3 linked regions of the Homo sapiens genome follow. The protein of the gene in region 2 interacts with the protein of the main gene of each other region in a pairwise test. Each region holds a gene or a part of one and is shown on either strand. Other genes may lie near its edges.

Region 1 (11,223 bases), on a different chromosome or scaffold from region 2:
AGGGTGGGCAGATCACTTGAATTCAGGAGTTCGAGACCAGCCTGGCCAACATGGCAATACCCTGTCTTTACTAAAAATGCAAAAAATTAGCCAGATATGGTGACATGCACCTGTAGTCCCAGCTACTTGGGGGACTGAAGCAGGAAAAGAAGGAGAACATAAGACATTGCCAGATAAACAAAAGCTGAGGAGCATTACCACATTACCACTAGACTTTCCCTGCAAGAAATATTCAAGGGAGTCCTACAAGGTGAAATGAAAGGACATTAGACAGTAACTTGAAGCTGTATGAAGAAACAAAGAGCTCAATAAATGCAAGGACCTTTATAAAAGCTAGTAGTATTTTGCTATCTACATAATTTAAGAGACTAATACATTTAAAAGAAAACAATCATTAGTCTAAAAGCTAACATTATTGTAACTTTGGTTTGTGGCTCCATGTTTTGTTTTTTATATAATTTAAGAGACTAACGCATTTAAAATAATTATTAGTTTATGTTTGGTGTTACACAATATATAAAGGTATAATTTTATGACATTAACAACCAAAAAGAGTGAAGAAAGAATAGTAGAGGACCAGATATTTTATGTTATTGAAGTTAGACTGGTATAAACTCCAGTTAGAGTATTATAACTTTAGGATGTTAAATGTAATCTCCACTGCAACCAAAAAGAAATAGTTAAGGAATATAAACAAAAGGAAATAAGAAAGGAGATTAAACATTTCACCACAAAACATCAACTAAACACACACAAAAAAGAGTCATGCAGAGTGAGATGTGGGAAAGCTATAAGGCATATAGAAAACAAATAGCAAACAACAGAAGTAAGTCCTTCTTTATCAGTAATTTCTTTAAATGTAAATGGATTAAACTACCCAATCAAAAAACAGAGATCAGCAGAATGGATAAAAAACACATGATTGCTGGATATACTGTCTACAAGAAACTAACTTTAGATCCAAAGACACACACAAAAATAATAAAAAAGAGAAAAAGAAAACAAAGATACAATAGGTTGAAAGTGAAAAGATGGAAAAGGATATTCATGCAAATAGTAACCAAAAGAGAGCAGGAATGGCTAGACAAATATCAGACAAAAATGAATTTAAGTCAAAAAATTATGAAATAAAAAAGGGTATTATATATTAATAAAATATTTAATACAACAAGAAAATAGAGCAATTTTAAACATTAACATGCCTCATAACAGACGATCAAAATACATGAAGCAAAAACTGGTAGAATTAAAGAGAAAAATATACAATTCTACATTAATAGTTGGAAACTTTAACATTCCACCTTCAATCACAGATAGAACCACCAGACAGAAAATAAGTAAGAAAATAGAGGATATAAACAACACAATAAACCCACTAGACCTAAAAGACATATACAGAACACTCTACCCAACAACAATGATATGCACATTCTTTTCAAGTACACATGGGACATTTTCCAGGATGGGCCATATGTTAGGCCACAAATTGTGTCTCAATAGATTTTAAAAGACAAATGTCATACAAAGTCTTCCCTGATCATAATGGGAGGAAATTAGAAATCAATAACAGAGTAAAACTGGAAAACTCACATATTTGTAGAAATTAAACAACACACTTTTAAAGAATCAGTGGATCAAAGAATAAATTACAATGGAGGCATAATGCTCTTGAGGATGTGAAGATATTGGAACACTCATGCACTATTGATGGGAATGTAAAATGATACAGCTGCTGTGGAAAACAGTATGGTAGTACCTCAAAAAATTAGAAACAGAATTACCACATGAACCAGCAATTCCATTTCTGGATATATATCTAAAAGAGCTGAAAACAGGATCTCAAAAAGATATCTGAACACCTATGTTCATAGCAGTGTCATGCACAATAGCTAAAATGTGAAAGTAATTTAAGTGTCATCCATAGATGAACAGAAAAGCAAAATGTGGTACAATTGAATATTATTCAGCCTTGAAAAGAAAGAAAATTCTGACATATACTTCAATATCAATGAATTTTGAGAACATTATGCTAAGTGAAATAAGCCAGTCTGAAAAAGACAAATATAGTAGGATTCCACTTATATGAGGTACTTAGAGAATCGCTTAAACCTGGTAGGCTGAGGTTGCAGGGAGCCGAGATTGCACCACTGCACTGCAGCCTGGGTGACAGACGGAGACTCTGTCTCAAAAAACAGAAAAAGAAAAAAAGAAAAAATTAGATGATGATGGAGGGTAGTAAAAAACAGGAAGAAAATAGGTCGAAAAGTTAAGATAGAAGTAGAAAAGGGAGGTAACATGCAAGCACACAGAAGGGTAGATGCAGATATAAAAAACCACTATCATTTATTTATTTCCTTCCTTACTATTACTCTGCTACCTATAATGAGTGATTTGGTACAAATCTGATTGATTGAGAAGCCTCCTTCTGTTATTTCCTGCCATTCTCTTGTAGAAAGGAAGAAAGTGGTGCTCAATATTAGATAATAATAAGTGAGTTGAACTATTTTTCTTTCAAGAACTGTATTACAGCAGCAGAATGAATTCAAACATAAAACCTAACACTTTCTCAGATGGTTCTCATCTATCACCAGATCTCATTGGAGAGGAACAGGGGCTAAGGTTGAGAAGAAATAACCATACTACTGGACCACTCACTGCATTTGCCAACTTTCATTTACACTTTTACAACTTGAGGTCTGATTCCAGTGAAAAACATACTGAGAGGCTCTTGTTCAGACCAGATCAGTATCATGCAGTTTAAGATCATCATGATAATCAAATCTTCCAGTTCACAGTAAGGAATGCCAGTTATAATAAGACATGGAAACAAAATGTTCCTTTATTCATATAGGTCCTGCAAATTGCCTCCCCATAATGCTTCATTTAGTCTCCATACTGTCCTAGTGAGTGGGAACTCAGTGGGGGTTTAAAGTGGTGTACTCAATGGTCGGTGCTCAAGGCAAGGTTTCTTGTATCATTCCCTGGAACAGCATTTCAAAGACAAGAAGAGAATAGTCCCACCACAAACTTCACATCAATTTCCTTTCAAACAAAATCACTGAGTAACCATATGTATCAGAAGCCCACCATCTCTCTTCTCTTGCTCTAGACTTGCCACTTCAAGTTGAAAACATAAAGACTTTCCCTGATGAAGGGCCATTGGCTAGTACATGAGAATGTTCCAGCCATGCTATTGAGATGGAGTTTCTGGAAGGAAGATGAAAAAAATGATCTATATTTTTCTTGATTTCTGCCCAGGCATATCTCTTCTGTAGGCATCTTGGAGTTCTTCCCAGAAGGCATATCTCAATGCCAATCATGAATAAGGGTTCCACTTACTTAAAAGAATAAAATTGTTTGTTGTTGTATGAATGGGAAGTGCCAGATAAAAGGAGCAATTGCTAATCTTCACCTATAGTGAAGTCCAGAGAGAAAGGATCACTTCATTTACCCTGCTTCTCTTCTATTTCCACACCAATCCCTCCCCATTCACCACGGGGGTCAAGGAGTCTACCAGAGACAGCTAAGTCAGAACAGAGTTGACTGCCTAGATGTGTGATTTTAGGCATGTCAGTTAATTTTCCTGTCTCTTGTTCCTACACAGAATTAGAGTCTATATCACTCTTTATCTTCCTTTTACTTTTGCCAAAGGAAGGCACTAAAAACATGCTGAGGAATATCTTGCCAGCATTTACAACTGCCCTTGAAGAGAGAATATGTGTTCTCAACACAGAAAGTTAGAAATAGGGTTCTTCCTACTACATTCACGCATTATCAAGATAGCATTATCATTAGGCACAATGTCTTCAAATGTTAAAGAAAATAAACATAGGATACTGAAACGTGAAAACCATGTTGCTGAAAATGAGTGATATGAGGTTCTTAACTCCTTAGAAGGCCTTTGCTTCATTCTGCTCACATAACAGCCTGACATTACTCCCTGCTTTTATATGTCAGACAAGCCAAGTTTTAGCAGTGCATATTCTCTTGGTCCCCTTATCCAAGGGAAGAAAAGCCTTGGAGTTCACATTCAACCCAGGAGTTCTAGTCTTAGGGCATGTTCAATATAGTTATGTCATATAACTAATACATTTATGCCCAATAAGTTATGGGCAACCTTGGATATGGAACCTAACCTCTCTAACCCTCTGTATTAGTTTGCTAGGGATGCCATAACAAAATTCCACAGGCTAGGTGAATTAAACAAGAGAAATTTATTTTTGCACAGTTTTGAAGGGTAGAAATCCAAAATCAACAGGGTGGCAGGTTTGGTTTCTCCTGCAAGACCCCTCTCCTTGGCTTGCAGACAGATGCCATCTTCCTGTGTCCTTTCCTCTGTGTGCACATTTCTGGTGCCTCTTCTTTTTCTTATAGGAAACCAGTCATATTGGATTAGGGCGTACCCTCCAGGCCCCATTTTAACTTAACTCACACTTCAAAGATCTTACATCCAAATACAGTCATGTTCTAAGGTTAGGGCTTCAACACTTGAATTTTGGAATGACACAATTTAGTCCATAACAGCCTCTATAAAGATGGCATCATGAAGACTGATGTAATATAATTTACAGAATGATTTCTAAATCATCTAAATGATTTCTAAATATAATTATATACAAATGTATTATTAATATTATTATTACTGTCATAATTATTATTCTCTCTGACATATTATCAGTCTTTTGGGAAGTTTAAATTTTCTTCTTTTGGAAGACTATACCATAGTGGTTAAGAGAATTAGGTTGTTTAGATCCAAATCTTGGGTCAGCCACTTGTTAGCTGTGTGACTTTCAGACATTATACTAACCTCCATAAGCTTTAATTTTCCTATCCATAAATTAAGGATGGTAAAAAATAGTACCTGCCTTGTAGGGTTGTTGAAAGGATTAAAAGGAGCAATGCATTAAAATGACTGGCTAAAAGTACATGCTCAATAAATGATGGTTGTTATCAATAGCAGTATTTAGACCTTGTTGATGCTGCTGCCTTCTTTCTCAGCCAGCAGAGGTCTCCATCATAGTCAAACAAGAGCTAGCTTCCCTATAACTGCACCGCAGTTGCCAAGCACATCCACTGTTGGCAGAGAAAACAGCCGAAGAATTACCACACTGACCAAACAGAGGAGAAAAAAAAGAGAGAGAGAACAGGAAATGGTTAGGATGCCACAGTAAAATGTAAGATGAACAGGTGACCATAAGTTAGGATTGTTTATGTTCTACTGCTGACTTTCACTGATATTGTCCTTGGTTGCATCTCACTTTAGCTTGTTCCAAACCAGTTTTAAAAAAGGTATCTATGTATATATCACAGAGAAGCAGTAAGAATGAATTGGCAAATATTTATGAAGTCCTCTGAAAACAAGAAGTGCTGCTAAGTAAACATTTAACATTTCTTACAGTATTAAGCTTATTTCATCCTTATTGCCAGTTATACGCCATGCCTCAGTTTTGCTACCTTTGTAATATGTTTCCTTTAACCTTCTTTTCCCAGACAGGCTTACACCTCCAAGTTCAATTATCCTGTCAATTGTGTTTTAAATTGTACTGATTTCCATTAACCAATTGTGGTATCAATTTGATGATCTGTTCCTTCTGAACTAATCATCTTTACACCCACCAAAATCTGGAAAGGCAATTAAACTGAGGAAGGTGAGAGTTATTCAAGAGAAATTAAAGCATAAAGGTAAAAACAGTGGAAAAACTAAGATTAAAAAGAGCACTGAGGAGAAAATATACATGTACTAAAAAGCACAGTATCCGAGCAGATAGAGAGACAAAGAGGAAAAGAGAGCGAGGTAGAAAACGGATACTGCCTATGCCTACTCCATCCCTCTTTCAGCACCAAGGACAGAACCTCTGAGCGGCTGACCCAAGCAACGCTCAGTTTAGGGTCCCTCCCAAATCCTCTAAAGAAAACGGATACATTCGAAAGCAGCTATGAAACATGCACTAAGGTCTAATAGGGAAGCTGGAAAAGCAGCACTCAAGTAATTTCACCTTAGAGGCAAAAATGGGTGATTTCTTTCTGTTCATTTCATAGTTTCTGAGTCCTGAGAAAGGCAAAGTTTGCTTTGCTTGGGTATGTCTGCTGTCAGTAAATGGCTGCAGGAGCCGAAGTGGTAAACTCCTCGGTCTCCAGAAATCAGAAGAAAATTTTAGGGTAAGTAATTTTTCTTTTCGTTTCTAATTTAGGACATAGTATTTTCCTCAAGGTTATTTAATCAGCTTGGGGTTCTGTGGATCTCTAAAAATATGCATTAAAACTCAATATCCACTCTTATTTAAAAACCAAAGCCCTGAGGAAATGGTTTTCTTTTTCTTCTAAGTGGTTGGACAGCAGAAACCTTTTATATTCCTTTTTCTTTTATTTTTTCCCCCAAAATTGTATCCTTGTGGGCTCTAGAAGCTATATCAAGGAAGAATTAAAAGATAGAAAACAAAAAGCTGTTATTATTTCTAGGATTTGTATGGAAGTTGATTGTATTCCTCTTAAGGATTTTACTTAATTGTAAGGGTCTGTTATTTTAAACTCCTCAATTCAGCACCCTGGCAATTCAGAGCTGAAGGTTTGGAGAGGCACTATTTTCAATGGTCTATTTAAAGTCAGGCTGTTTCTAAGTCAGAATCCAATTATTCCCAGCAGAGATATGTAGTACTTGAGATGATGATTGTGTATGTTTCCTTTGATGATGGTATATGATTTTTAGGGTATTGTTATTTAATTGTGAGACTTCCATTACTTGCTGTAGCTTACTGGGGCAACAGAAGTCATTGCAATTAGGTATTTGTTCCAGTTCATGCATTTAGTTTAATTGAATACCATCAAAATACATGCATGAATAATAATGCAGCAATAGCAAAGTGAAACTTGGATTCTAAACTCATTGTGCATGACTATTTCACTTTATAGGTGAAGCCTTTGCTTACTGATACTAAAAGGTCTGTAAAATATCTGTCCTTAGATAAGAGTGAAGAACCACTGCTTGACATGGCATTAGGATGTCTTATAGTCAAGGAGAAGTAGAGACAATGTGAGAAAGATTCTTACTCGGCACTCATTTATTTGTAGTTGAATATTTTCAAGGGTCTGTATGGCTAGCAGTGAGCAAGGGTATTGAGCAAGGAAAATACTGACAGTATCCAAATGGGTGCCTAATATTAAAGCATCCATACAGAAGGCTATTTGTTATGGAATATACATTAAAGCAAATACCGAACAGTTTCTACTCAATATCAGATTCAATTTCTAATGCATTGAAGTTTGTCATCAATTAATATTTGCTTATTGATTGATTTATTTGCTGAGTTCCCCATTTTATCTCTGATTAGAATGGTAGGATGCTCAGTCTCTAGAGGTTGTGAAGGAAAGTGAGTATGCTCTGCTTTACTAGTCAGGTTTAATGAGGGGAAAAAACTGTTATCTTAGCTACTCAGTAACCAGCAATAGTTTTTCTCTGTACATTTACCAACAATGTAAATGTGCCCAAATACATAAATATGCTATGTATTGCAATCCATTTGTGAATCTTTTTCAGGAAAATAGGCAGCAATTTGCAAGAAGAAAGTAGCATAGAAATGCTAAAGACTATCTCTAATAATAATAACAATGTAACTCCCACTGGCTCTATGAGCAGTGTGCACCTGCATTACTTCACCAAGCCTAGTCAGATGATGTGACATGTTCACATACTCTGAACAAGTGAGATTGTAAAATTAGTACCCATTTCACATTTGTCTGCCTCACCCCAAAAAGTGGCATAGTTAAGTGGCATAGTTAAGAACATGAGCTCTGGAATCAGACAAATCTTGGGTTGAATCAACTCCATCATTTACTGGTTTGTGATCTCAGCAAGATATTTAACCTCTCTGTGACTCACCTTTTTTATCTAGAAAACTTGATAGGATAATAGTGCTTACCTTCTTCATCAGGTTGTTGTGAGGTTGAATGATGATAATGCTTATAAATTTTAGCTATAATTATTAATTTTATCAGGCAATATAGCAAGTCCGAATTACAGCCCAGACCAGAAAAGCTCTGGCGACTGGTGGTCAGGAGTCGTCTGAGTAAAAGATTAGATGTAGCAACAGCCAGAGATCTGTGAAATGAGTGAAGATGTGGTCATGGAACCCTGTTACTGAAGCGTTTTGTTCTGGGTTGAGTAAAATCCATCTCAACTCGGGAATGACAGTTTTGTGGGTTTTTTTTTACTTTGAGACAGGATCTTGCTCTGTCACCCAGGCTGGAGTGCAGTGGCACAATTATAGTTCACTGCAGCCTCTAACTCCTGGACTCAAGCAATCTTCCTGCCTCAGTCTTTCGAGTAGCTGGGAATACAGGCACATGGCATCACACGCAGCTAATTTTTCTTTTCTTTTATTTTTGCAAAGATGGAGTCTCACTATGTTGCCCAGGCTGATCTCAAACTCCTGGCCTCAAGTGATCCTTCCATCTCAGCCTCCCAAAGTGCTGGGATTACAGGAATGAGCCCCCAAGCAGGGCTGGGAATGACTAACGTCAACTTCCATGCTGCTATAAGTATTAAAATGCATGTAAAGTACTCATACTTGCCACACAGTAGTAGCCCAGATGTAGTTGTCTTCATCTTCATTTGTTTTCTTACAGAAAGAGAACAAATAATTAAAACTCTGTAAGTCTTAATGAGGTGCTAAGGAGGAACCCCACGAATGTTTCAGGAAGACTGTTATTCAGCACTGAGGGATTGAACATCAGCAAAGCAGGACAAATGTCATAACTGATGGGGACCTGACAACTCTCTGTTCCCCTGCCTTTTTAAATAGGTTATGCACTCACTCTAAGAGATGCCAGAACAAACTATAAAGACCAAGATAAATCAATACTTTGTAAGGCATTTAAAAGCTCATTAAAATGTGTAAGTAGTGTTATATGTAATGAATCTTAAAAGACTGACGCCAAGAGTAATCTTCTATTTCTCTGCCTTCTCTATTCTTTTACCTCCTATCCACTTTTAACTCCTAACACTGTTTGCTGGACTTTTTCCTCTGCCAAGAGGTTTGACAGCTACCTAAAAATAGTATAGCTGAATGCCAGTGGCTAATTATACAAAGGGAAACCCTCAACTCTGAAAATCAATTCTGAGCCTGATGTTGGAATCACAGTTGCATGGATTTCTGATTTCATATTTATTTTTTCCACATCTGATCTTAGATCCTTTATAGCAGAAGGTGGGTTAAACCGTGATTGTTCAGGTAGTTTCTGATGAGTTGTGGATGTGGGAGATGAAAGCAAAAATGAGTGAGATGCTAGATTACTCTCTGTCTCTCAGCTAATTGTTTCAACTTCCTCCCTGCTTAGATTTTGTAAGCATGAATGCCATCATGAATATCGTCCTGAATGTTTAAGCATGTCATCATGAATGTTGACATGATGACATTAAGAATGTCTTCATGAATGTTTAAGCATGAATGCCACCATGAATGTCAGTCATCATTTCCAAGTTCACTAGATACTTTACAATTGCAGCTTATTTAACTCTTCACCTATTCCCACTTTCCTCTTAACAATAAAAGCAACTATATTTCTAGTGCTATGTGCCAGACATTATGCTAGAGTGATGATTCTTCATGGGGAGAGCAATTTGCACCCCCGCTCCAGGATATGTGGCAATGTCTAGAAGCATTTTTTATTGTCCCAACTTGTGGGGAGGGGTATGCTACTGGCATCTAGTGGGTATATGTAAAGGATGCTGTTAAACCCCCCACAATGCACAGGACAACCTCCTCAACAAAGAATTATTCAGCCCAAATTGTCAGTAGTGCCAAACTTCATGTATATAATCTCATTTAGTCTTCATAATAACCTTATGGAATGGATATGATTATCTCCATTTTGCTGATGAGGAAACCAGCCTATCATTGTAAATTACTTAGAGAGTGATTGAGTTAATGAATTCTCTAGGCTCTTTGCTTCTTCTTACCTGAGACCCGTTTCCTATCTGTTAGCATATCTAACAGAGGGGAAAAGAAAGAAGAAAGCCCAGCTCAGTTCTGTGTTATATAAGCAACTCTGGTTTGAAAAAAAAAAAAAAAATCTAAGCAGGGAGGAAGTTGAAACAATTAGCTGAGGGATAGAGAGTAATCTAGCATCTCACTCATCTTTGCTTTCATCTCCCACATCCACAACTCATCAGAAACTACCTGAACAATCACGGTTTAACCCACCTGCTGCTATAAAGGATCTAAGATCAGATGTGGAAAAAATAAATATGAAATCAGAAATCCATGCAACTGTGATTCCAACATCAGGCTCAGAATTGATTTTCAGAGTTGAGGGTTTCCCTTCGTATAATTAGCCACTGGCATTCAGCTATACTATTTTTAGGTAGCTGTCAAACCTCTTGGCAGAGTAAAAAGTCCAGCAAAAGAGTAACAAGTATCCTAAGGTTTTATGCCTCCCTCTTACGTGGCAGGTGAGAGGAGGCTAAGACATTATTCACCAGTTGCAGACCCCAGAAAAGAGGGATTCTGGCCACTGTGTTCCAAAGTGGCCCAGTTGTGAAAGGGAAGACATTTGGGCCTCAGCCTGCCTTAAAAGTGGGAATATCCTTGAACAATCAGAAAGCATTGTATTTTTCCAAAAGCTCTTGGCAGCAGCGGTGCTATCTCCAGGGTAGCGGCTGCCCTCCTCTGAATAATGAGAAAATTATAATTATTATCAAGAATTATTATTATGTTTTAAAATACATTGAGTGCAAACAGTGTGCCAAGATAAAGGACAATTTTTTTAAACAATTCTCTAAATTCATTCCAAGTTTGTCACCCTTTCCCAAGTATTTGTTCATTTTAACTCTTTCATATTTCAGGCTGAAACATTTCAAAGTGAGGTACAAAATGACAGCCATGATTAGGCCGGTCTCCTAATCAAGGGAGAGCTACAGATACCTGGCTTGAGGGCAAATTCTGGCCACCAAGTCAGCCTCTACTTTTGCCAAGGCCTGAAGAGAGAGTTCCCATAAAGGTCTATATGTACCATGCTTAAATATTTTAAAGTTGTAACCAACAAGCCATTGAGTAAAATGTTTCATCCTCCCACCTTGACAAATACACCTTCGTAACAACATGGAAGGCCAAGTTTGAATTTAAGATTCCTGGACCTTTCAAAATTCCATACAAAATGTGATCATACAGGAGAAGCTGGGCCCCCACCCCTAATCTGCTTCAGGGACCCTGGCCTCTTCTCTCCCAA
Region 2 (10,738 bases):
GTTCAATTTCAATCTATTTGTCAAGCATAATAGCATTTTAAAGAATTATTTCTCACCTATCGAGGGAGCAAATTTTAATTAAGTTACTAGACATAACTCACAAGAGCTAAAAGCAGCACAATTCAAATAAAAGTCAATCATCTCATTTGATAAATACACTGAAAAGTAGAACTCTGAAACTGCAAGGTGATAAGAAAATGGAGGTAAAATATCTACAAGTCTATGTGTCATTAATTCATCTTTTAGTTTGAAAATAGTAAGGGTAATCAAGACAAGAAACTACTTTGAAAAACAGGACATAAGATTAACGTCATTTAGACCACTGAACAATGACTAGTTCACTATGCAACTAATTTACTTACTTGTCGTCATGCTCATAAATATTCAGACCCAAAGCATCAACACCTAGCCACAATTCAGTTCCTTTTTTATTTTTTATTTCAAAATAGTTGACTCCATACATTTCTAGATCTTGTGCAATCTTCAGGTATTCCATCATAGAATCCTCCCTGTTGAAATAAAACTAAATGTAATATATTTAAGTAGGAGCATATCAAACTAAAGTTGCAAAATACCTGGAATTAAAAATTAGTACTTTACATAAGTCAAACAATCTTTTGGAAATAATGTAATAATAAATGTTACGACATGAAAATACTTTGAAGGAAAAAAGAAAACATAGAAAATAGCTACCCAAATACCTTAACATTCCTCTATGTTCTTCATGCCAGTTCTGTATTCTTTCTTCCCACTGTTCTTTTGTTAGTTTGTGTTGTTCCAATACACTAAGAGGACCAAAAAAAAAAAAAAATTATAATGACTTTAAGATTCAAAAGCATACACTTTAAAAGTAAAGAATCCTTTCAGTAACTTGACTGTGGTAGTTGTCAGACAATTAATACACATGATGAAATTGCATAGAACTAAATTACATACACACAGAAATGAGTGCAGGTAAAACTGATGTAATCTGAATAAGGTGGCTAGATTGTACCAATGTCAATATCTTGTTTGTAATATTGTACTGTAGTTACACAAGATGTTACCATCAGGGAATGCTGGGAGAAGGATACCAGGGATCTCTTTTTTTTACAACTGCATAATAATCAGTAATTATCTCAAAGTTAAGTGTCTAGGATCCTTAAATTCCTTGAAATAATACTTGCTCCATAAAGTGATTACAAAGATAGCTTATAGGAACCCAAACAGTTCAAAGGAATAAAACATTAGATAAAAAAATGGCTCATTGTTAATAGATAAAGACCAGACTGAAAACCAGAATTCTTGGGCCCTAATTCTTCCTTTATGTATTTACTTTTTTGCTACTAATTTTGTTGTTTTAGGTAGGTAATACTTTCAATTAAAAAGTAGAGTGAAAAGTCATACTCCAGTCCAATACCCCCCAAATAACTTGTTTTTGTATCCTTCCAGTGTTCTTAATTCAAATGTGAGCAAATACATTCTTTTTTTTTTTTTTTTTTTTTTGAGATGGAGTCTCGCTCTGTTGCCCAGGCTGGAGTGCAGTGGCACAATCTCGGTTCACTGCAACCTCTGCTTCCTGGGTTCAAGTGATTCTCCTGTCTCAACCTCCCAAGTAGCTGGGATTATAGGTGTGTGCCACGATGCTCTCGGCCTCCCGCGTAGCTGGGATTACAGGCGTGCGCCATAATGCCTGGCTAATTTTTCTTTTTTGTGTGTTTTTTTGGTATTTTTAGTAGAGACGGGGTTTCGCCATGTTGGCCAGGTTGGTCTTGAACTCCTGACCTCAAGTGATCCACCTGCCTCGACCTCCCAAAGTGCTGGGATTACAGGCGTGAGCTACCACGCCCAGCCAAATACAAACATTATATTCTACTACTACTATTTTAACACCAAATCAGCAAAGTCAACATGATTATAAGTTACCTACTATGCACACTACAGTTTGTGACTTCTATTCTCTTTGGCTCATATGATAATTATTCACCTTTATTTACCAGATCCTACTTTACTGACAGCAGAAGCTGTGGTGTTAAAATATTACTGTTTTACTATATAAAAAATCTTGCATGAAACCCAAGGATTTCTTGGCAGCATAAAGGAATGATAAAATCTCCCCCTGGATAAGTTACCTACTACTTAGAGTAAATTCCTTAAAGGGGTCTCAGACATACTGTTATGTTCTTATTATACTCTGCTCCTTTCTCTAGGCATCTTTTCCAAGCTCTTGCTTTTGGGGAGAAGAGTTTCATCTTCCTTCTGAGAGAGCTTAGGTTTCCACAGTTTCTTGTCTTTCTTGCTGTCTGGCCTCTGGGCTCACAGAGAGGCATGCAATCAGCCTTGGAGACATAACCCAGTGCAGTCAATTGCTTACCATAATTATATGCCCAATGCCAGTACTAAAGAGGGCCTCGAAAATTTGTAGAGTGAATAAATGAATTAATCAATTTTTCCCAACCCCTATTTTTTTTTCTTTTTCAGAGACAACTTTCTTTTATGGACTGTCCATTATACACTAACCTCAATTTCCATACCTGACATCCACTGCCCCCAGTCTACCATAATCTGGCTCAAACACCCAATACTCTATGGTAACTGTTCTTCTTTTTTTTTTTTTCTTTAGACAGAGTTTCGCTCTTGTTGCCTAGGCTGGAGTGCAATGGCATGATCTCGGCTCACTGCAAACTCCACCTCCCGGGTTCAAGCGATTCTCCTGCCTGAGCCTCTCCAGTAGCTAGGATTACAGGCATGCACCACCACGCCCGGCTAATTTTGTATTTTTAGTAGAGACGGGGTTTCTCCATGTTGGTCAGCCTGGTCTTGAACTCCCAGCCTCAGGTGATCCGCCCACCTCGGCCTCCCAAAGTGCTGGGATTACAGGTGTGAGCCACCACACCCGGCTGGAAACTGCTCTTCTAAGGTCACTACCAAGCTCCTTATTCCAACAGATACTTTAGTTCTCCTCATATTTGACCTCTTGGTACCATTTGGCAGTGCTGACCATTCTCTTCATCAAAGTATTCTTTTACCTTGGCTTCCATGATATAATACTCTTCTGGTATTATTCTTGTTTTCTGAGATGGAGTCTCGCTCTGTCGCCCAGGCTGGAGTGCAGTGGCGCCATCTTGGCTCACTGCAACCTCCGCCTCCCGGGTTCCAGTGATTCTCAGGTCTCAGATTCCCGAGTAGCTGGGATTACAAGCATGTGCCACCATGCCCAGCCATCTTCTAGTATAGAATTATTCTTGAATCTGTGGCCAGTGTCTCAGTACAGTTGTCCCTCCATATCCATAAAGGATTGCTTCCAGGACTCCCCTTGGATACCAAAAACTGTGGATGCTCAAGTCCCTGATATAAAATGGTGCAATATTTGCATATAACCTATGCACATCCTCTTGTATACTTTCAATCATCTCTAGGCTAATAATACTAATACACTATATTATTACTACTATGTAGTATAATAATACACTAATACACTACAAATGCTATGTATTGTTATCCTGTATTTTTAAAATTTTGTACCTTTTCATTGCTGTGTTATTTTTTTCACATATTTTCAATCTGTGGTTGGTTGACTCTGTGAATGCAGAACCCAAAGACAAAAGCTGAGGTCCAACAAGATCTGTCCTAGGTCTTTTTCTCATTTTTATGTACTTGGTAGGTTGATCTCTTTCATTCTCATGGTTTAATTACCATCTATTCACTGATTACTCCCAAAACTGTATCTATAGTCCAAGACTGTTTCTAAAAGGTCTGCACCCACATATGCAAATAAATACCAGATATCTCTCTTGGTTATATTGCACATATTTCAAACTCAATAGGTTCAAAACTGAATTCATCTTCCCCCTCAAATGTATTTTTTCTTCCACTCATTTTGATAAAAGGTATTACCAAATACCCAGCCGCCCAAGTCAGAAACCTGGTATGTAAAAGTTTATGTATATTTAGCTCTTTTCAAAGGGAAGCAATACTATCTGGTGGAGCTAATTATCTATACCACAAGAGCTAAACTTTTCTACAGTAAGAACAGATTGCTCATCTGGGTTTTTCAATACAAGAAATCAGAATGTATCAGAATCACTAAATTATTTTATTTGATTTGTTATCACCAAATAACCTAATTACTCATTTCCTCCCCAGACTGTACTTAGATACTGAGAAAAAGTGTCCGATATACCATACTGGAATAAGCCAATCACTGTGAAAATATCCTCTCTGTTCTAAACAGAAAATGAAAAAAAAATGGTATTCTAACTTTATGACTAAGTCTCATTTTAAGATAACATGGCTTGAATTAGTCCTCCATGGAATATCAACTCTGAAGGAACAACTGACCTACAAAATTAAGGAACAAATCTTGAAATAGGCATTTGCACTAGCAACCACAAGCAACCCTATCTAAAGCATTTAGCCACCTTCCTTCTTTTTAAATAGAGTAGGTTAGAGCACACCCATATTTAAAATAAACTGTGCTTGTGTGTTATTGTAGTGTTTAAGAGATTTTTTTCAATCACATGAGTTATGAAATGTAAGCCAATTACTTCATCTGCTGCTCAACCAAACAGCAATCTGGCTTAACACTGAAAGATCAATGCTGTACTTGTTTAGATAAAGCATTCCTATTCTTTAACATTTAAAAAAAAAATTAAAGTAATTCTGATTATAAAACAAAAGGTAATCCTTATATGAAATGAAATTCCACCATAATAGTCTGATTACTCAATTCAGTAATCTAAGATGAAGAATCTTAGGTTAGAATAACATTCAAAACCAGAATATAAACAGACTATCAGATATCTCATATTCCTGACTCTCTTGGTGAACAACTTACATAATTCTATCCTTTTCCAAGGTGACTACTATTGCTACAAAATTAAAGGGCGGAACACTGTGACATTTAATAATTGAATTTTGGCTGAGCATGGTGACTCACGCCTATAATCCCAGCACTTTGGGAGGCCGAAGCGGGTGGATCATTTGAGATCAGGAGTTCGAGACCAGCCTGACCAACACGGTGAAACTCCATCTCCACTAAAAATGCAAAAATTAGCCAGGTGTGGTTGTGTGTGCCTGTAATCCCAGCTGCTCAGGAGGAGACTGAGGCAGGAGAATCGCTTGAATCCGGGAGGCGGAGGTTGCAGTGAGCCGAGATCGTGCCACTGCACTCCAGCCTGGGCAACAGAGCAAGACTCCATCTCAAAGAAAAAAAAAAAAAATTAAAAAGTAATATTTGATGTTCCATCTTCTAGATTCCATCAATACTACTAAATAACACGTTTCACACTTGACAATTAAAACTGTAAATCATATAGTTCATTAATTATAATCATAAACTAGAAGGTAGCCAGAGAAGGATTATTATCCCCACTTTGCAGATTTAGATACTGAGCTCAGAGGTTTTAGGTCATGTACCTAAGGTCACATATATAGCAAAGGGTGGAATCGGTACTCAAAATTTAGGTCTTCTGATAATTTTTTCCTATGCCATATTATTTTAAAATAGCCATTATAGAAGCAGCAGTACACTGTAGATAAGAACAATGCACCAGCCTAGGAGTCTGAAAACCTAGTTTAAAAAGCCTTTTCAGAAAGTCAGAAAATTCAGCCAGGAGCAGTGGCTCACGCCTGTAATCCCAGCACTTTGGGAGACCGAGGTGGGAGGATCACTTGAGGTCAGGAGTTCGAGACCAGCCTGGCCAACATAGTGATACCCTGTCTCTGCTAAAAATACAAAAATTAGCTGGGCATGGCGGCAGATGCCTGTAATCCCAGCTACTCGGGAGGCTGAGGCAGGAGAATCACTTGAACCTGAGAGGCAGACTCCAATCTCAGCGAGCTGAGATTGCACCACTGCACTCCAGCCTGGGTGACAGAGTGAGGCTCTATCTCGGGGGGGGAAAAAGTCAGAGAATTCTATGAAGAAAACACAGCCTGCCACTTACTCTCACTTATTAAGCACCTGCCTGTGTTAGAATTTGTACCAAGCAGCAACAGTCACATCCTTTCCTCAAGTCCAAATTATCACTGCCTCCATTTATTGCTTACCCTATGGGAATGAGGAAAGAAGAGATAGATCAACCTTAGGTAATTACAGAGCATATAAATCTATGGAGGTGCTAGGTAATGATTTTTAGAAGTATACCCCATGATCCAGCTGGCAACTTAAAATCTGGAAAAAAAAAAAAAAGAGGCCAGGTGCGGTGGCTCATGCCTGTAATCCCAGCACTTTGGGAGGCTGAGGCGGGCAGATCACTTGAGCTCAGGAGTTTGAGACCAGCCTGGGCAACATGATGAAACCCCATCTCAATGAAAAATACATTAAAAAAAAAATTAGCGGACATAATGGCATGTGCCTATAGACCCAGCTACTCAGGAGGCTGAGGTGGAAGGATGGCTTGAACCCAGGAGGCAGAGGTTGCAGTGGGCTGAGATCACGCCACTGCACTCCAGCATGGGTGACAGGTCCAGACCCTGTCTCCAAAAAAAAAAAAAAACCTGAAAAACGTTTTATTTATAGACTTCTAGAATACAATTTTCAGACAATATAATGCAAACGCATGTTTCACTTACCGCTGGGGTAGGAGTCTATCATTAGCCAGGTAGCCTGGCTTATGAATCTCTTTATTGTAATCTCCATACTTGGCTTGGACAGCATAGGAAGCCAAAAGAACTGCAGTTTCTGGCGGGCAATATATCTCATCATTTAAGATGGCTTCTTTAACTTGCAAGAAGAAGAGTCTCTGGGTTATTTCTTGAATTAATTCCTCAGAAACATCTTCAGGAAAGAATTTAGCTCTAAACTTGAACTGTAAAGGATTCTCTTTTTTAACATCCTGCTGTGTTACCTGGAAAAATAATTTCAAGTATAATCAACAAAAATCTTAAGTTTACAATAATTAGACCTAGTCACATCAAATTCTTTTTGGAAGAAAATGAAGTGAAATAGATTCTAAATCTATGAAGATTTTAGTGTGTAATAGTCTAAATCTGTAAACAAATATATGTGGTAAAAGATTCTATGCTCTTGAATGTGACCTATAACTCAGATTCTAATAACCAAATTGAAAACTTTTTTTCATATTCTTGAGAAGCTTATCCTACAGGTATTTACATCAAAATTGAAGTACTTAGTATGCCATTTGTAATATCTGCTTTAATATTTGTTATAGGCTAAGTTTTCAAATAGGAAAAGTAAGCATTTCTTTTTTTTTTTTTTGAGATGATAAGCTGATGGTGCCTGATTGAATTTAAAAAAACATGGTACCTCATAATGATTAACAGATAACTACAAAAGGAAGCTTGCAATCAGTCAGACTTAGCTTTTCCAGCACAAATTCATAACTTCAACTTAACATAATTATTAGTTTAATGTTATCGTACATATTTTACCTTTTTATTTAGTTTAAGCCATGTAGAATAACCTTTGCTGTCTACATACTGCAGCCCAAAAAACCAGACCTCACGCAAACCAACTGTTTTCACCACCTAAAACACAACAACAACAAAAAAACACAATTTCAGTCCAACATACACATTGTGTCTAGATGATACTACACTTCAAAAGGAGAACAAAACTATGTAAGTATACGTATATTCCTTTGCCATAGAAAAGGCTTTCCCTAAATTTAAGATATTAAAGGAACATTTTTGAAAACTCAAATTCAAGTTTTCTATACTCAATTTTTCTTTTTTTTTTTTTGAAAAGAAGTTTTTTTTTTTGTTTTTTTTTTTTTTGTTCTTGTCACCCAGGCTGGGGTGCAATGGCACAATCTTGGCTCACCGCAACTTCCGTCTCCATTCAAGTGATTCTCCTGCCTCAGCCTCCAAAGTAGCTGTGATTACAGGTATGCACTACCACGCCTAGCTAATTTTTTGTATTTTTAGTAGAGATGGGGTTTCACCATGTTGGCCAGGTTGGTCTCAAACTCCTGACCTCAGGTGATCTGCCTGCCTCGGCCTTCCAAAGTCTTGGGATTATAGGCGTAAGCCACTGCACCTGGCCTCTAATCCTCAATTTTGTAGTGTCACTTCAATCCTCTTACTTGATCCACTTTTTCATACCTCCTTTTCCTTATCTATCATGACCTCAACAATAACAAGAGTCTTGAAAATATATATATATATATATATAGTTTTCATAATCATACGTTCCAATTTCTATTTACCCCCACAAGTACCCTATTGGTATATTTAGGGCAAATGGTATCATTTTGGTGATAAGAAAAGTCTGATATATTCCATGTTCTACCTTCACTGAGCAAGAAACCATTCTTAGAACATACCATAAATTCCACCCTTCTACAATTTTGCTGATGTTTTTTCCTCTGCCTAGAATGGGTCTTCTGTATTTTTATGACTTATTGAACAATTTATTCTTTAAGGACAAGCTCAACTAACGTGCCTTCTGTGAATAAAGCTCTCCTACCATCTAGATAAAATTAATCACTTGTTCCCTGATATTCCCATAGGACTTTATCTATCCTGCTATTAGAAAATTTACTCTATCATAATTGTGTTATTAGCAGTGTGTCTATTTACCCTCCTTGACTGCATAATACTTATGGACAGAGATTATTGATTTATGTGTCTTAAAATCCATAGCATCTCACAGAATGATCAGCCTGTGGTAGATACTCAAAAGTAAGACTAAGTAGGCTGTGCGCAGTGGCTCACGTCTGTAATCCCAGCACTTTGGGAGGCCGAGGCGGGCGGATCACAAAGTCAGGAGATCAAGACCATCCTGACTAACACGGTGAAACTTCATCACTACTAAAAATACAAAAAAAAAAAAAAATTAGCTGGGCGTGGTGGCATGCGCCTGTAGTCCCAGCCACTTGGGAGGCAGAAGCAGGAGAATGGCGTGAACCCGGGAAGCGGAGCTTGCAGTGAGCCGAGATCGTGCCACTGCACTCCAGCCTGGGCGACAGAGCAAGACTCCGTCTCAAAAAAAAAAAGAAAATAAAGTAAGAGTAAATAAAGTGGTGGAGTTAGGATACACACCCAGGACTTACCCACACCTAACAAAAGCATATGTTTTTTAAAAAAATCTGTATTTAAAATAAAATGAGGAAAATGATCCAGGGGAGGTAAAAGTTCATTAACATTTTAAAAGCTTTACAGAAAGATTCAATATCAGTTCTTAAATAATAAACATTCTTGGTTTTTTGTGGGAGTTTTTGCTTATTTTTTTTTTTTAAAGACAGGGTCTCACTCTGTACCCACAATGGAGTACAGTGGTGTGATTCACGGCTCACTGGAGCCTTGACCTCCTGGGCTGAAGCAATCCTCCTGCCTCAGCCTCCTGAATGGCTGGGACTAGAGGCACATTCCACCACACCTAGTTAATGTTTTTTTTTGTTTTGTTTTGTTTTGTTTTCTGTAGAGGCAGGGGTCTTGCTATGTCGCCAAGGCTAATCTTAAACTCCTGGCCTCAAGTGATCCTCCCACTTCAGCCTCTCAAAATGCTGGGATTATAGATGCAAGCCACTGCGCTTGGCCCTTGGTTTGTTTGTTTGTTTGTTTGTTTTGAGACGGGGTCTCACTCTGTCACCCAGGCTGGAGTGCAGTGGTGCAATCTCAGTTCACTGCAACCTCCACCCCCACCCCAGGCTCAAGTGATCCTCCCACCTCAGCCTCCCGAGTAGCTCGGACCACAGGCATGCACCACCAAACCTAGCTAATTTTTTATATTTTTAGTAGAGATAGGGTCTCACTATGTTGCCCAGGCTGGTCTTGACCTCCTGAGCTCAAGGGATCTGCCCACCTCAGCCTCCCAAAGTGTTGGGATTATAGGCATGAGCCATCGTGCCCAGCCTGTTTTTTAAAAAATAATGTTAAAACATTTGGCAGGGCAGGGTGGCTCACGCCTATACCAGCACTTTGGGAGGCCAAGGCAGCTAGATCACTTGAGGCTAAGAGTTCAAGACCAGCCTGGTCAACATGGTGAAACCCCATCTCTGCTAAAAATACAAAAATTAGCCAGGTGTGGTGGTGCACACCCATAATCCCAGTTACTCAGGAGGCTGAGACAGTAGAATTGCTTGAGCCCAGGAGGCAGAGGCTGCAGTGAGCCGAGTTCGCGCCACTGCACTCCAGCCTGGGTGCCAGAGCGAGACTCCGTCTCAAAACACACACACACACACACACACACACACACACACACACACACACACACACAAATAATCTTAAAACATTCCAGGCTTTTGGTTTCAAGACAGCAAACTGAACCCTTCCATTTACTTTCCCACTCTTGAAAATTTTCACTGAAATGACAGAAAAAAAGAAAAAACACTGGCTGGGCACAGTGGCTCACATCTGTGATCCCAACACTTTAGGAGGCCAAGGCAGGAGGAGCTCAGGAGTTTCAGAACAGCCTGGGCAATGTAGGGAGACCTTGTCTCTTAAAAAAAAAAAAAAATTAGCTAAGTAGTCAAGCAAATCTGTAGTTCTAGCTAATCAGGAGGCTGAAGTGGTAGGATCACTTAAGTCCAGGAGGTCAAGGCTGCAGTGAGCTGTGATTATGCCACTGCACTCCAGCCTCAGTGACAGAGCAAGACCCTGTCTGAAAAAAAAGAAAAAAAAAATTAAAAATAAGAAAAAAGCATTTAGAAAATGTTACCATCAAAAAAGCAAAAAGTGGGCCAGGCACGGTGGCTCACGCCTGTAATCTCGGCACTTTGGGAGGCTGAGGCAGGTGGATCACAAGGTCAAGAGTTCAAAACCAGCCTGGCCAACATGGTGACACTCTGTCTCT
Region 3 (10,738 bases), about 16 Mb from region 2:
CAGTTATTCCAGGCCTGTCTCCTCATTTATAATGAGGATATGACTCTGATGGCCCCATCTGGCACTAACATTATATAAGTGTAATGCAAAAAATGAATCACCAGAATGGGTCTGCTCCTCTGCCACTCGGCAGCCTGCACATGTTTGAAGAAAGCTGTTCCCCTTGCATTTTCTGCACTCCGAGCTAAGCAGCCTTGGCTCTCAAGACCACCCCAGCAATGATGTGGTCTCAGGACCTCCATCACCACCGTCTCAGTGGAAATTATAGGGAAGCATACAAATATATACACATACGCATATATACACATATATATACGGTTTTTTTTTATATAGGGTCTCTCTCTTTTGGCCAGGCTGAAGTGCAGTGACACGATCTCAGCTCACTGCAACCTCCGCCTCCCAGGTTCAAGCGATTCTCGTGCCTAAGCCTCCTGAGTCGCTGGGATTACAGGCGTGTGCCATCATGCCTTGCTATTTTTTTAATTTTTTGCAGAGACAGGATTTCACCATGTTGCCCAGGCTGGTCTCGAACTCCTGGCCTCAAGTGGTCCGCCTTCCTCGGCCTCCCAATGTGCTGGGATTACAGGCGTGAGCCACCGCACCAGCTCCTCAAGAATTTCCTTTTTTTTTTTTGAGACAGAGTCTCATCCTGTTGCCCAGGCTGGAGTGCAGTGGCACAATCTCGGCTTACCGCAGCCGCTGCCTCCCGGGTTCATTCAAGCGAGTCTCATGCTCAGCCTCCCGAGTAGCTGGCATTACAGGCACCCACCACCACGCCCAGCTAATTTTTGGATTTTTAATAGAGACGGGGTTTCACCATGTTGGCCAGGCTGGTGTCAAACTCCTGACCTCGTGATCTGCCCACCTCGGCCTCCCAAAGTGCTGGGATTACAGGCGTGAGCCACCGCACCCAGCCAAGAATTTTCTAACAGAGCTCTCCAACTAGAAACAGCCTGCCTCCTGCAGAAGTAGCAGTAAAGCTTCCATCACGGAGGCGTCGACAGAGAAGCTGCCCACTGCCTCAGGGGCGTTTCTCTTTGGATGGGGGTTGGCCATGGGCACTTTGAGGTCCTTTCCAACACTGAGATTTATGGTTCTATGAATGGAGGGATTGGAGCCCGCCTGGTAGAGCAGGTCAGAGAAGACTTCTAGAAGGAAGTGAGAATTCAGTAGGATGAAAAGGACCTAGCTCAGTAAGGCGGACAAGTGGCTGAAGACGATCTTTCAAGCCAAGGGTGCATGGCTGAGGGGCATGTGACAGGAGGCAGGCCGGCCATGGGGTCAGCCTCCTCTGAGGCCCAAACACCCACAGCATCTCCATATGGAGGTTCTATTGGTGGGGGGCTGGTGAAGCTGCTGAGTTCAGGGGCTGGAGGGGAAATGCAGAGGGTGGCAGGGCAGGGGCAGGGGACTGCAAGGGAGCTTGACATCTCAAAGGTAAGAACTAAATCTATCATCTACACTTTACTATTTTATCTCCAGATCTCAAAGGTGTTGTGTCAGCCAAAAATGATATCCGAGTGGAAATTGTCCACAAGGAACCAGCCTCTGGTCGGGAGGGTGAGGAGCACTCCACCATCAAGCAGCTGATGGTAAGAATGCAATTACGCCCCATCCCATCCCGTGACTCCATTCCCAGAAGGTCCTGGGACTAGAGGCTTCTCAATGAACTAGATGCTTCCAAAAAGCAGAGCAGCGTTCAAGATGCCCCCTGCCCACCCCACAATAGGTGAGGCACACACTCTCAGCCAACAAATGTGAGTGTGTGCCTGCTGTACTGTGCTTGTGTTCTGGCAGACTCAAAGACATCTAAGATGCAGTCCAGGCCAGGTGCAGTGGCTCACGCTTGCAATCCCAACACTTTGGGAGACCGAGTTGGGCGGATCACTTGAGATTAGGAGTTCGAGACCAGCCTGGCCAACATGGTGAAACTACATCTCTACTAAAAATACAAAAATTAGCTGGGCGTGGTGGCGGGCGCCTGTAATCCCAGCTACTTGGGAAGCTGAGGCAGGAGAATTGCTTGAACCCAGGAGGTGGAGGTTGCAGTGAGCTGAGATCAGGCCACTGCACCCCAGCCTGGGTGAGAGCGAGACTCCATCTCAAAACAACAACAACAACAAAAATGCAGTCTACCCTTCAGAGAGCCTGGCTCTTCAGTAAGGAGAAAAGACATATGCATAAATTGCCACAATATGTTGTTATATAACATATAATCCCCTCCCCTCCCCCGCACACACACACATAGCTATTATAGATATTCAATACATGTCCCTCTCCCTCATCCCCCGCACCCCACCAAAACAGTCTGCAAGAAACACAGGTTCCTCCTTGGGGACTGGATTGCCAGTCAACTCATCACTTCTCCAGGCACATCAAGCCTGCTCCTCCTCTTCCGAATCCCCATTTATGGGCCATCATCTACCTAGTTGTCCAAGCAGAAACCTGGACAACCATGCTAGAAGTTTCTGGTTGCCTCGGTCGTAACATGTTGGAGTGGAGGCAGCAGAGCAAGGAATATAGTAGATGGGCTTTCTGGTGCCTCCATGTCCTCATCCATGAGATGGGTCTGAAAGCCACAGTATACAGGGCTGTGGTGAGGGTGAAGTGGACAAAACTCAGAAGGGCTTGAAGCCCATGGAACACAATAAGTGCTCAAGAAATATTAGCGGTTTATGTTGCTAGAGGGTGAGCAGCTGCTGCTGTGTTCATCCCGGGGTCTTCGGAGCCTTACACAGGCCCTGGTAGAGGCTCACAGACGTTTACTGAATCAAACTGACTTTTCCCTCGGCTACGCTTTCTCTCTCCAATTGATTTTCAGGTCCTGTCAATTCCACTTCAAAAAGTGTCTCAAATGTGTGCCCCACCTGTCCTCCACCATCACTTCTTTACTTCAGGCCTCATCATTGCTCCCCTGGATGATTACAGCAGCCTCCCAGTTGGTCTCAGCCTTGTAGTCTTTTGTCTCTTTTCTCAATCCACCCTCGAGAGCCTTGAGAAAGCAGCCTTTCTAAAATGCAAATCTGGTCCTGTTACTTGCCCACTTAAAATCCCTCGGTGGCTCCCCACATCTGCTGGACAAAGCCCAACTTCCTGGTGTGCCATCAGGGCTCCTCAGTGCCAGGCAACCACCAACCTCTCCAGCTCCATTTTCCGGCCAAGTACATCTGGCCTTCCAGACATGCCAAAGAGCTTGATTCCTGGCCTTCGAATCTTTTGGACTTCAAAGGCCTGTGCACCGGCTGTTCTCTCTGCCTGCTAATTTTGTCTGTTGAATCTCACATTCTCCCATAACAATCAACTCCAAGATGTTCCGGGCTTGTCCTCCCCACCCCTGGCGGAGCTGTGCACCTTCTGCTCTCCCAAAACACTTTGTATGTGCCTCCTTTATAGTGCATTCCCCCAATTCCATGTCAGCTTCCCCAGTTATCCCAGAGCTCCTCAAGGGCAAAGGTCATGTTTCTGAGTCTACGCTCATCTATTTCCCCTGGGGCCTAACACAGGGCCTGACACTGTTAAAATTAACACAGTGGAGTGTTTAGTTTTACGAGGGAGGAAACCACAGCCTAGATGTGAGAAGGGATGACGTCTCTATACTTAAGCTTAATCATGTGTGTCCTTCATCCCAAACGGGACCTTGAATTCTCTCCCATCGGCAAACATTCTGTTTGCCTCAGACTGTCTCCACATCCCTTAGTCCAAATCCACAGGCAAGAGTGGGGGCAGCTCAGTGTCAGGTGGGAGCAGAAGGGACTTGCTGAGGGCTCTGGGCTAAGCCACCCCTTGAGGATATCGTCATTCTCGCATTCCCTTCACCTCCTGGCCCCAAGACAGCCCCATCTGCAAGAAGGGGCAGACTTAGAAGTTGAATCTGATGGGAAAGAAGGTCTCCAGTCCAGACAGTGCCAGAGCATTTACTGGAAAAATGAACCGCATGGTCTCCTTAGTGAGGAGGCAGCCGGGTGGCCGCACTTTGGCTGATTCTACAGGGCTCCAAAAAGAAACGAGGAAAGCAGGTTGCAAGGGAGAAGAAACATCCCGGCCCAGAGAGTAGGAGGGAACCTACTACCTATACCGTGCAACTAGCAGAGACACATGGCAAGCCTCTCGTGTGTCACAGGTTAAGCATCACTGTGGTTATTCAGATTAATTCATATGCCCACTGTGTGTGGAGTATGCTTTTTCATCTTATGTCTAATAATTTTGTTAATTTTCAGTAATTTAGAGCTAAGCCACTTTGCCTATTCATTCAACATATACATACCATTTGAAGCAGCTCTATTGTATATCAGGCACTGTGCTAGGCATTGGCAAATCAAATAATTAAGAGATTCCATCCCAAAAGCAGGCAAGGTCAGTGACCACAACATGCAAAGCACTGAACCAGGTGTGGGAGGACCCAGAGACAAGCAGGAAGTGATCCTTGCCCTCAGGCTGTTTGGCATCTCTAAGGAAGTTAACTTTTCATGAGAATAACAGGTGTGGCCCATGTCGCCAGCATCTCACAGATGGTTATTCCTTGTGACTCCCTAAGGCCTGCACTAGGCCTGCACGCTGGAAAAGAAACTGCCCTAAGGAGCCTTGCCATGCCCAGTGACTGACATTCTGAAATTATTTATCTACAAGTCCATCTCCCTGATGAGCAGAGCTGTATCTTAATGTACGTTAATCTGTGGATCTCTGGTCCTTAGCAGAGCAACTGGCCGGCATTTTACAATAAACGTTCAGTCAATGGAATTGAATCAGCCATGGGAGATCTCTGGTGATGCCCTCGCCCAAGCGAGGAAAGTATGGCCTCGGATACCTGCCCCTCGCCTCCCCTAACTGCCCCTCACCTCACCTACTCACCCACCCCCCTCAACTGCTTCCCTGTCTCCTAGGATGGGGCTCCAGGAACTCATCTTGACTCTTTCACATGGTCCAGGCAGTGAGGGGTGGTGGGGGTTATACAGGGCAATCTTTTGAGTTTCTGATCTCATCTTTTCCTTGGGGGAAGTGGAGGTTTAGCCACCTCCTATCTACTGAGCAGCCTTTTTTGGGTTGCAGATGGACCGGGGTGAATTCCAGCAAGACTCAGTCCTGAAACAGCTGGAGGTCCTCAAAGAAGAGGAGAAAGAGTTTCAGAACCTGAAGGTAAGAAGGGCCCCGGGTTATAAGACACAGCCATGGAATCTGGTCTTTAGCTCTGATGGCCCAAACCCCAAATCTATACAACAAATGACAGCAAGTCAGAGAAGAAAAGGTCAGAGGCCAGCTTGGTGGCAGGTGCCCGTCCCTGCCTAAGGCACCTCCTCTCCCTACCCCAACGCTGAGGAGGCTGAGAGAGCTAAGGCTGAGACTCCCCAGTTCTCTTCCACAGCCTCCTCACATGTAGATTCAAAATGAAGCATCCATGTTCTGGATAAAAACAATTAAAAAGCCTGACTTTCAAATGACCCTGCATTGCCCTGACATAAACCCAGTCAAGAGCCTCTGCTTCCCTCCTTCGGCCCTCAGCCCTCACCCTTGCCGTCCCTCCCCTCCTGGGGTCCGCAGTCCCCCTTCTGCCATCTCCTGTTCAGTGTCCTTCTTCCCCTGCACCTTCCCTGCAGCTGTTCACCCCTGAGTTTGCTCCCTACCAGGTTGCTCCCTTCCTCCTGTTTTCCCTCTTCCCTCCCCGCATAAGGGGACGGGCTCAGCCTGGAAACCCCAGCCACGCTCAGTGGAGACTCCACCAGGTGACGCTCCTCTTCCTCTCGCCCATCCAGGACCCCACCAATGGCTACTACAGCGTCAACACCTTCAAAGAGCACCACTCAACCCCGACCATCTCCCTCTCCAGCTGCCAGCCCGACCTGCGTCCTGCGGGCAAGCAGCGTGTGCCCACAGGCATGTCCTTCACCAACATCTACAGCACCCTGAGCGGCCAGGGCCGCCTCTACGACTACGGGCAGCGGTTTGTGCTGGGCATGGGCAGCTCGTCCATCGAGCTTTGTGAGCGGGAGTTCCAGAGAGGCTCCCTCAGCGACAGCAGCTCCTTCCTGGACACGCAGTGTGACAGCAGCGTCAGCAGCAGCGGCAAGCAGGATGGCTATGTGCAGTTCGACAAGGCCAGCAAGGCTTCTGCTTCCTCCTCCCACCACTCCCAGTCCTCGTCCCAGAACTCTGACCCCAGTCGACCCCTGCAGCGGCGGATGCAGACTCACGTCTAAGGATCACACACCGCGGGTGGGGACGGGCCAGGGAAGAGGTCAGGGCACGTTCTGGTTGTCCAGGGACGAGGGGTACTTTGCAGAGGACACCAGAATTGGCCACTTCCAGGACAGCCTCCCAGCGCCTCTGCCACTGCCTTCCTTCGAAGCTCTGATCAAGCACAAATCTGGGTCCCCAGGTGCTGTGTGCCAGAGGTGGGCGGGTGGGGAGACAGACAGAGGCTGCGGCTGAGTGCGCTGTGCTTAGTGCTGGACACCCGTGTCCCCGGCCCTTTCCTGGAGGCCCCTCTACCACCTGCTCTGCCCACAGGCACAAGTGGCAGCTATAACTCTGCTTTCATGAAACTGCGGTCCACTCTCTGGTCTCTCTGTGGGCTCTACCCCTCGCTGACCAGAAGCTCTACCTACCCCTGTGCCTGTGCTCCCATACAGCCCTGGGGAGAAGGGGATGACGTCTTCCCAGCACTGAGCTGCCCCAGAAACCCCGGCTCCCCACTGCTGCTCATAGCCCATACCCTGGAGGCTGACAAGCCAGAAATGGCCTTGGCTAAAGGAGCCTCTCTCTCACCAGGCTGGCCGGGAGCCCACCCCCAATTTGTTTGGTGTTTTGTGTCCATACTCTTGCAGTTCTGTCCTTGGACTTGATGCCGCTGAACTCTGCGGTGGGACCGGTCCGGTCAGAGCCTGGTGTACTGGGGGGAGGGAGGGAGGAGGGAGCCTGTGCTGACGGAGCACCTCGCCGGGTGTGCCCCTCCTGGGCTGTGTGACCCCAGCCTCCCCACCCACCTCCTGCTTTGTGTACTCCTCCCCTCCCCCTCAGCACAATCGGAGTTCATATAAGAAGTGCGGGAGCTTCTCTGGTCAGGGTTCTCTGAACACTTATGGAGAGAGTGCTTCCTGGGAAGTGTGGCGTTTGAAGGGGCTGGAGGGCAGGTCTTTAAGATGGCGAGACTGCCCTTCTCAGCTGATAAACACAAGAACGGCGATCCTGTCTTCAGTAAGGCTCCACGAGAAGAGAGGAAGTATATCTACACCTCAACCCTCCTAGTCACCACCTGAAATAAATGTTAGGGACACTACTCCAACATGTTTGTTCTGTTCTTTTGTTCCTACAAAGCCACAGGAAGAACCCAAGAGCTCATAGAATGCGTTGGGAACCCAAGGTTCTCTGCCCTCCTTTGATTCAATCTTCCTAGACAATAAAGGCAGTTGATAGCTCTGATTGTGGTGGCAATTAAACCTACAGGCTGACTCCTCTCCCCTGTGGGTGGATTCAATCCAGAGGACGTGTGGGACTCACCAGCCACCTGACTCAGCCAAATATAGCTCAGAGGCAGAGTGGTCACACTAGATACTGGCCAGGCCATTCTGGACCCTTCCTCTCAGCAATATTCTGAAGGCAAAGTTCCCTCCTCTAGAGGTTCAGAGAACAAGACCCGCTGGAAAGAGTCTAGACCACCAGGCACCCTAACATTTTAATATACAACTCAAATAGTGTTCTAAGAAGGGCCTCGCTTGTGGGTAAGTTTGATGTGGTCATGGCAGATGGGGTGGATAAACAGGGGCAAGTTAGAGTGCTCGTTGAGGGAGTGGGATTCAAATGGAACTTTAAAGAACCCAAATTGTCCCTAAGGTGGCTTGGAGGTTCCTTGTCAGTTTTAAACCTTTCTTCTCCAACCTTCCCTGGTAGTTCTTACCCATCATGGGAACCTTCATCACACCAGTTTGTGCTTCTTTCCAGACACTGATTCCTTGGATGGTCCCAATCCACAGATTCTATACACAGCCTACACAGCTCCTCCACTCAGAGGAATTTTCTGCTTCGATCATATTTCCAAGTGCTTCGAAATTTCCCAGAAACCTGGCTATCTTCCTTTGTAGCCCCTAAGCCTGAGGGAGTAAAAACTGATCAGAAATGTTAAGTGTATGTCCACAGCCCACATTCTGCTGCTGGTACCATGCTGGCCTAGCATAGACATCAGGATGCTGGCCCCTGCCCTCTCTAGGTTAATCTCAGCAAGCTTGCTTGCTTTCTTTCCATATATGTTTTCCATTGGCTAACAGAGAATAAGGATCCAAGACCATATGCACAATGCCTTGGTGTGCTGGAATAAGGAAAAGATGACTTTAGAGGATCTGTTCATTTACTTCTCTTATTTCTCTTGGTCTTCCCACCTTGGATATGCGTAGACCATTTACCTCCTAGTCCTCAGCACAGCTGACCCTGCCCCTTGCTCCTGCTACACACACACACACACACACACACACACACACACACACACAGAGTGTGCACTAATAGGGTGGAGGTGCCCATTCTTCCATTCTTTCCTGGAAACCAAAATTATAAACGAGAAGAATGGGGAAGAAATATGTTCTATAAAATAAGCCCTTTGTCCTGTCCCTCGGCACACCCAGGGTAAGAATATGGACTGAGCAGAGCGCACCGGGGCAGCTGCAAACACTAGGCTGCACGGTGCCCAACCCTCTTAGCACTGTCCAATGCCCAATGCAGCAAAGAATAGCCCAAGGGATAGGAGGTCACAAGGATGATCTTTGTGAGAGACAAGAGCATGGAGGGAAAAAATGAGGGGGATCTGGAGGACTCTGGGGCATTGAGAAGCCTGAACTGAGCTGAGTACATCCCTCAGCTGTCTCCAGCACTATCTATTTCTCACAAATGAGTGGGGGTGCAGAAAAGCTGGTGAAGGGAGGTGCTGAAAAACAAAGGCAGTGGGAAGCCCCGAATTCCCCCATAGGTGATTTCACATTAAATAAAATGAGTGCTCTACATTTGTAATCTTATTTAATGCTCACAATTCTACGAAGTATCACCATTTTACAGATGTGGGTTGAGGCTTAAAGAAGCCAGAAAACTTGCCCAGCGTCAAGCGCTAACGAGTGACAAACATGAGCTTTATACACACATTCATCCTAGAATGTCGCTGGAAGTGGCTGATGGTAAAGGCCATCTGCTAGCATGCGCTCTGGGGCAGGCCGGGCGAGGACAAGCACAGCTCCATTAGGAAGGCAAGACTGTGCTAGCATGCGCTCTGGGGCAGGCCGGGCGAGGACAAGCACAGCTCCATTAGGAAGGCAAGACTGGCGTCCTCCACCCTAAGTCCCCAAATGACCCGGAAAGACCACAAAGCCCTGGGAAACAAAGCTCTTCTGTGTATCAAATCACCCCCACCTCTACCAAGGACGGCAGCCAGTCTTCCGATAGCTTTAAACTTCATTACTGGCTCAGAGTCACTGGACGGAGGCCCAGTCTCTAATTCTCAGGTTCAAGATCAGTCGGCCAAGGCCAGGGTTATTTCCACCACCTCTTCCACTTTCAGGGAATAGGAAGTACTTTCACGTGAAGAGCAAAAATGTCACATCAAATCCATTTCTGACGAAGCCTTTTTGAACAAATTCTATAAAGCAAGAGGCCATGAAGCCGATTTTAAGTTTCCAGAATGGAAAGGAGCCAGGGAAATGAAAACAAACATGGTGCAGTCCTTGGGAGATTTCTTAGAACAAGAGAAAGGAGTCAACCAAAATTCCATTTCTCACTTCCTGGTTGGAGAGGAGTATGTGCTGCTTGGGTCATTTGCTATTATGGAATCAGAACCGAAGGCACAAGGTACATACACACACACACACACACACACACACACACACACGTTTGATTAGTTCTTCCCAGGTATTATGTGTGCGGTTTGTCCTGGCACCAGAAAAAAAAAAAAAAAAAGACAAAAGGGAGTCTTGAGATTAGTTTCTTCTCTGGGAGCTTTCTCTATAAAACACACTTTTTATTGAAATAAAAATATAAAAATGTAAATAAAGACTATCTTAATTTGCAAATAGATTTTTATTTTAAATGCTCCTTGGTGTGCACATCTAAAGAAACAAACACTTAGATGTAGACCAATGACAACTAAATCTTAAATTTCACTTCCCCTTTCAAAACGGCTTTTGAAAATCTCTTATCTAAGTTGTTCTTAGGAACTGTAACCACATACCAGCAATTTGCAGCTTTCAAATCAAAATTAGCAGCAGTCTCTGGGAGTCACTGATAAAGAGCTCATTCACTGATAGCCGCCTCTCATTTCCAGTGAGCCTCCAACCATCCTTTCCCCAACTCCTTATGTTTCAGTGTTCCTAACCAGGTCATAAACTGAGAAAAATTTTAAAAAATTTAAAAGCTCCTCTTCTTTCTAGAAATAAGGAATTGTTTTCCTGGCCAAGTCCATGTTTGCCGCAAAACCATTAATTCTTTCCCTCTCTAACCGCCATTCTTCCTTGGCCCTCCTCCCGTCCTCGCTAACAGCAAGTTCTTTGACATACACTGAAAGCTTTCATTACTACAAGCCCTATAAGTCTTCCTACTCCCACAGCCTCCATCTTTAAAAGGCCTTCTGTGAATATACACCATTCACAAGATACGTCATCAAATTGTCATCTACATCCCTGGTTATATTTATGCCTCTGCCAATATCTGCCTGCCACTCCATGTTCCCAGTGCTTTTCTCGGAAACAGTCCACTTAGCCCACCCACGGGGCTG

What was found.
Region 1: the proteins of RDX (region 2) and DRD3 interact in a two-hybrid assay, tested with the Homo sapiens proteins (one study listed by BioGRID).
Region 3: the proteins of RDX (region 2) and KIRREL3 interact in binary tests that used the Homo sapiens proteins (3 or more experiments, as listed by UniProt).

Annotation. Positions count from the first base shown.
Region 1 is NC_000003.12:114,173,593-114,184,815, reverse strand, and holds the start of DRD3 (D(3) dopamine receptor), read left to right. Parts: upstream 1-5,763; 5' UTR 5,764-6,159; intron 6,160-8,622; exon of another isoform or gene 8,623-8,890; intron 8,891-11,223. UniProt on the Homo sapiens protein: Dopamine receptor whose activity is mediated by G proteins which inhibit adenylyl cyclase. Promotes cell proliferation.
Region 2 is NC_000011.10:110,257,405-110,268,142, forward strand, and holds part of RDX (radixin), read right to left. Parts: intron 7,471-10,738; coding exon 7,375-7,470; intron 6,831-7,374; coding exon 6,556-6,830; intron 786-6,555; coding exon 702-785; intron 510-701; coding exon 363-509; intron 1-362. UniProt on the Homo sapiens protein: Probably plays a crucial role in the binding of the barbed end of actin filaments to the plasma membrane.
Region 3 is NC_000011.10:126,420,033-126,430,770, reverse strand, and holds the end of KIRREL3 (kin of IRRE-like protein 3 isoform 1 precursor), read left to right. Parts: intron 1-1,482; coding exon 1,483-1,592; intron 1,593-5,046; coding exon 5,047-5,133; intron 5,134-5,747; coding exon 5,748-6,191; 3' UTR 6,192-7,413; downstream 7,414-10,738. UniProt on the Homo sapiens protein: Synaptic adhesion molecule required for the formation of target-specific synapses. Required for formation of target-specific synapses at hippocampal mossy fiber synapses.